Regions from separate parts of the Homo sapiens genome. Here region 2 is linked to region 1. The links come from fine-mapping of genetic effects on gene expression. A gene starts in region 1. The other region holds a variant in brackets. All regions are shown on one strand. Distances are from middle to middle.

Region 1 (2,911 bases):
CCAGCCAGTCACACACACACACATACACTGGAAGCTGGGCATTCTCACTCTCACGTACACACCCAGGGGCTTGGCACACACACAGATGCACCTTCTGGGGCACAACACTTTATAGTTTGCAAAGGGCCTTCTCATTTTTCATCTCATTGATACTGAGGGGTGGAGAGTTTCCCTGAATATGACCCATTCTAGAGCTGGCAAGAGATGAGAGTCCCAAATATCTTCAAGAGGCCGGGGCTGAACGCATGGGCTGGGCTGCCTGTTTTCTCTGTGTCGGTGTCAGCAGAGCTGAATGGCAATAGAAACTCTGGAAAAGTTTTAACCCAGCTCTCCCAGATAGGCCCTTTCACCCTTAACAAGTCACACCTGGACTCAGGGACTTTTTTTTTTTTTTTTTCCAAACCACTCTCACGGGGCCAGCTCCAGGCTGTCTTAAGATTTAGCTGGAATGGCAGAGGTGAGAGGCTTCCCAAGGGCCTCCTCTGTGGACAATTATTTGATCACTAATCCTTCCTACTCATTCCCTCAACCAAAGTTCCTGGGGAGCTCTGAGGGCAGGGCCCAGCCTCCTCCGTGAGGACCCCTCTCCAGATACTACACTTAGCAGTGTTCACATACGCAGGGAGAGACCACGGTTGCCCCCATTTTAGAGAGTAAGAAATTGAGGCCCAGAGAGGAAAAGTGCCCTTGCCAGCCATTTGCACTCCAACCAAGACCTTTGTGGCTCCGAATCCTGACTGAGCTATTCCACTTCTCCAGCAAGGCACGGCGCAGCACCAATGTGTCCATCTCCTCCCCGCCCCCACTGACCCCGTCCTGCGGTGCCTCGTCCCTCCATGCTGTGCAGTCTGCAGGCTCCAGGCATAGCCAGGCGGAGGAAGGAGGAGGACCCCAGTGCCTGCCCTACTGCCACTCTTGCCTGTGATGAGCCTCGGTGGCTGCAAGTGGACTGCAGTTACTCAGGAAGCTCCTAGGGGAGCTGAGGGGCGCAAGCCCTTCCAGGCATGGACCCAGAAAACTCACCCAAGAGTTAGCAAGTGCCTCGCTTGCAGTCCGTGAAGTGCTGGAGCAAATTCCCACTCGTGGAGCAGCCCCTGCTGCCAGTCAGTTCTGTGCCTGAAACTGTCGCGTGCAATGTTCTGGCAGAAGTCTGGAGAGGCAGCAGATGAGGAAACCGAGAGACCTGGGGAGAGGAAGTAACTTGCCACAGCACAGAGCTGGCAAGCAGCAGGGCCAGGACTCGAATCCCGAGAACCCTGAAGCTCCAGTCCTTTACACCAATGCTGACTCATCCTCTACCCAGCTGCCCGCAAGTCACTTCATTCACCCTCTGTTTGCTCACTCAAACAAGCAGCATCACCAATTTAGCCCAAGGGACTGTTGGGAGGATGGAGTGAGATAACATTTCAGGACAAGGGCCTGGCACAGGGAAGGCACGCATTGGGTGGCTGTTTTTTATCCTCCTCCCCATTATCACCCCAGCCCTCTCCTGGCTTCTCTGGAGTCTGGAGATGGCCCTGCTTCTGCTCATTGCTGCCGCAGGAAACCATTAACCTGGTTTTCTCAGCAGTGCCTGGAAGGTCCGTTAAGAGAGGCTGAGACCCCGAGATTAATGGCTCTGTTATCTGTGGCTCCAACCCTATGGATCCAGACAACTCCCACCCAGGGATGAGGATGGCACTGAGGGAGGAGAGAGACCCTCTCATACTGTTTTATACTCGGAAAAGGAAAGAGAAGCGAAACTAAAGGCAGGTAGCCCGGCGCCTAAAAACCAGACCTGAAACCAAGGAACCAGACCCGAAACCAAGGAACCAGACCCGAAACCAGGCCTGGGCCTGCCTGACCTAAGCCTGGTAGTTAAAATTCGACCCCTGACCTAGCAGCTGTTGTTATCTATAGATTCCAGAGATTGTATGGAAGGACATTGTGAAACCTCCCGTTCTGTTCTGTTTCACTCTGACCACCGGTGCTCGCAGTCCCTATCATGTACCCCCTGGCTTGTTCAGTTGATCACGACCCTCTCACGTGGACCCCCTTAGAGCTGTGAGCCCTTAAAAGGGACAGAAGTTGAGCACCTGACGAGCTCAGATTTTAAGATGCTAGCCTGCCGATGCTCCCAGCTGATTAAAGCCACTCCCTTCACTATCTCAGTGTCTGAAGGGTTTTGTCCGCGGCTCGTCCTGCTACAGCACCGAAGATGGAGGGTGATGCCGGGGGGGAAAGGCTGACCCCAGGCAATCCTCCCCTCCCCAGCGCCAATCCATCCTTGAGCTTGGGCTTGATGAGGAGAAGGCAGCCCGGGCGGCTCTACCTGGGCCCATGGTGGGCCCTCCCCGTCTGTAAGATGACTCTCCTGCTTCCTCCTCCTCCTCTTCTTTCTTACAGGTACTTATTGGCCACCTACTCTGTTCGGGTAATGTTCAACGCACTTGAGGTCAAAAAACAAAGTCCTGCCCTTGAGACACCTGTAGTCTAGCAGGGGAGATTAGTTTCTTTTGGTTAATGAGTAAATATATAGCAGGCCAGATAGTGATAAGAGCAGCGATATAGAAACATAAAGGAGGGTAAGGGGCGGAGAGCTAGGGGGCTGCAGCCTCGGACAGGTGGACAGGCCCCATCTAGATTTGCCAGATCACCCTCTCCCAGCCACCTAGCCTGGAGGAGACCCTCCCCCAGGCCCCAAGCCCCCACTCTGTGCCAGGCTCTGCCTCAGTGGATCTCAGCAGCAGGCTAGTGCGAAGACTGGGACTCCCTGGGCACAGGCAGCAACTCAGGGCCACCAACGCTTTGGCAGGGAGCATCCCGAGCTTGTGCCCCACTCCCAGCCCTGGGGAAGCTCTCTGCTTCCTCTGTGGTCCAGAGAGGGAGCACATCCCTCAACCAATCCCCAATCCCAATATCCCAGTAGGCG
Region 2 (2,911 bases), 26 kb after region 1:
ATACCTTCTTCATTTATTGGCTGGAGTTCAGTAAAGAAGAATTTTCCTCGGTGTCTATTTAGTTACTCTGAAATACAGTTTGTATAGGAAAGACAGATTCTTTTCCTTTTAACCTGCCTTTCAGAATAATACATTGATAAGCTACCAACCTACAGAACAGACCTACACGTTTGCTTGTTTGTTTGCTCTTAGTATCATTATAAACTCATAGATTGAAACACAAGTTTCAGATTTGTATGTTTCAATCCATCGTAGGCATTATTCTTTTTGATACTTAAAATACCCCATCTTTGTGCAGCACAGTCCTCAAGTTGGTTTTTATGTCCTTTAAACACAACGTTAGTAGTGCTGACAACTTGCTTTTTGTATGACAAAATATTCTGAACCCATCTTATGCATTTCCTGCCACGAACCCAGAATCAGCCATTTCTCCAAGAAGCCCTTGTTCCTTTTAATAGGAAATACATTTAGAACCTTTGAAGCGGGTACTAGAGGTGCTCAGCATCACAGGGCTAGTTATTGTTCCCAGGCCTTTTTAGAAGTTAGAAATAGAGAATACTTTTTAAAGAGAAAAAAGCATCATGAGTTTATACAGATGTTTCCAAATCCAAGACTATACTGATAGTAGTTTTTTCTTCTTTGATTTTATATTCGTATCTCTTTTCTCTTATGTTGAAAATGTTGGTTTCCAGTGACATTAACATAATTAGATTTTCATTATATCCTACTACATGTAATAGTTTCAAACTAACACCATCAATAGTATTAAAGTTGACCCTTGAACAGTGCAGGGGTTAGGGATGTCAACCCCTCACGCAGTTGAAAATCCACATATAACTTTTGACTCCCCCAAAACTTAACTACCAATATTCTACTGTTGACCAAAGCCTTACCGAAAATATAAATAGTTGATTAACACATATTTTGTATGTTGCATATATCATATACTGTATTCTTATAATAAATTAAGCTAGAGAAAAGAAAATGTTATTAAGAAAACATAAGGAAGAGAAAATATATTTACTGCTCATTAAGTGGAGGTGGATCATCATAAAGTTCTTCATCCCTCTCATCTTCATATTGAGTAGGCTGAGGAAAAGGTGGAAGGTGGGGATTGGTCTTGCTATCTCCGGAGTGGCAGAGGCAGAAGAAAATCTGCATATATGTGGACCCATGCAGTTCAAGCCCATGATGTTCAGGGGTAACCGTACTTGTAATATGATTACAAAGACTGCTTCAGATTTCTTTAGAGTTAGTTCTCTTTGTCCTTAGAATATGTCCTTCTTAGGAATGTACAGTGAGGCAGTTATTAATTCCAGGAAAAACAAAAAGTTATGCAAGAAAGAAAATATAAACATAGAATGCCCTAA[G/AG]ATGTCACTGTGAGCAACATTTTTGACATCATAAAAATGGAAGCACTGAATATTTAATCAAAAATTGCAATGGGAGAATGAGAGAAGGAAGAGAACTAAAGCCTCATTTCACAAAAGGAAACCAGTATATAATGTCTAAAATGGAAGAAACCGATTTTTAAAAATGGTCTGAGTTTGATACTGACATGAAAGTTTTCTTTTTCTCCAGTCGAATTTAAATTGCCACTCATTTCCATCACACGGAATTTACACTCACTCCTCTTCTCTGCTGCCTCCCAGCCACCCTTTTTGACTCCAGCTCAGGAAATGGAGACATCTTTTTTTTTTTTTTTACTGAAGTGGGATTGTTATTTAAATGTTCTTTGGGTAATCCTGTTCCCTGGACAACCCTGACTTGGACAGTGTCCCCTAGGGCAGACCCTCCAATTCAGGTTGGATCTCTTGCCAGGCAGATGTGTGAGTTCTCTGTGGCAGTAGCTCAGGCAGGCTGAGGGAGGGGTGGCGATTAGCGCGCTCCTTCAGCTCCTTCACCGAGGAGGGGATTTGAAGTGAATCTTGGAGGAGGAGACACATTTCAGGTGAGCAAGGAAGTCAGAAGGATTCTGTAGACGCAGGGACAGCATAGGAAAGGCAAGGTGCCTGGAAGGGATTCTGCAATACATCCAGTATTCCACAATACACGTGTTACTCCTCAGGGACACTGTTCAGTCACTCTGGTTTTTCTGGCCGCCCAAGATGTAGGGCCATTTCCTAATCTATTTAATAATAGGCATATCATTTGGCGTCTGCTCAGCTCAGCCCACGGCCTTGGAACAAATGGACCCAATTAAAAGGCCATCATAGGGGAATTCAAGGGAAGAGGAAAAAGCCATTGATCAAATCAATGCTCAGTTGCCCTGGGGCTGGTTTGTGACCAGCTATGCCAGAGTCCTTCCCCCTATCCTCTCCCAGATGCTGTCCTAGACCTGAGGACCTTCCCGCCACCCTGGTCCCATCCTCCTCTCCTCCACCCCCACCCACTGACTAGCTGTGTGGCCTCACACTACATCTTCTCTAGATCTCAGGGTCACTGTCTACAAAACATTGTAGGCATCCTCTGCACCCCCTCTTCTTTTATCACCTCCTTCCATCCAATCCATAAAGGATCCCATTCACTCTTCCTTCAGAATACATCTGGCATTGGTCCACTTCTCCCCACCTCCATTGCTACCACCTGGTCCCAGTCCTCAGCCTGAGCTCTCACCTGGATTTCTGCAACAGCTCCTCCCTGTAGTCATTACTTCTGACCTTGCCCCACTGTGGTCTATTCTCAGCACAGCAGACAGACCAATCCTTCTAAAATGTAAGTCAGATTCTGTCTCCTCCTCAGACCTTGCATGGCTTCCCTTCTCATTCAATGTCCTACCAGATCTCCCCCGACCTCTGGCCTCCCCTCCTCCCCTCCAGGCCCACTCCACCCCAGCTGCAGGCCCTAGGGCTTTGCACTTACTGGTCCCTCTTTCTGGGAGCTCTTTTCCATTTGGCTAACTCCCACACCTCCT

Direction of the effects. Alleles are on the strand shown, and positions count from the first base shown. SD is a standard deviation of normalised expression in the study named.
As copies of G replace AG in region 2, the expression in tibial artery of the gene that starts at base 1,152 in region 1 goes up (small effect, 0.27 SD a copy in GTEx).

The links. PIP is the estimated chance that this variant, and not a neighbour inherited with it, causes the effect.
Region 2: its variant is fine-mapped to the expression of P2RY6 in tibial artery (GTEx, PIP above 0.99).

Annotation. Positions count from the first base shown.
Region 1 is chr11:73,270,579-73,273,489 of GRCh38, reverse strand. It overlaps P2RY6 (pyrimidinergic receptor P2Y6), which reads right to left and starts at 1,152. Exons shown (of 3, transcript NM_001277204.2): 1 at 1,024-1,152. RefSeq lists enhancers at 1,914-2,706, 2,707-2,911.
Region 2 is chr11:73,244,905-73,247,815 of GRCh38, reverse strand. No RefSeq gene overlaps it. Among named protein-coding and RNA genes, the nearest start is that of P2RY6, 26 kb to the left of the region's middle. The variant G/AG (reference allele first, on the strand shown) is at 1,371.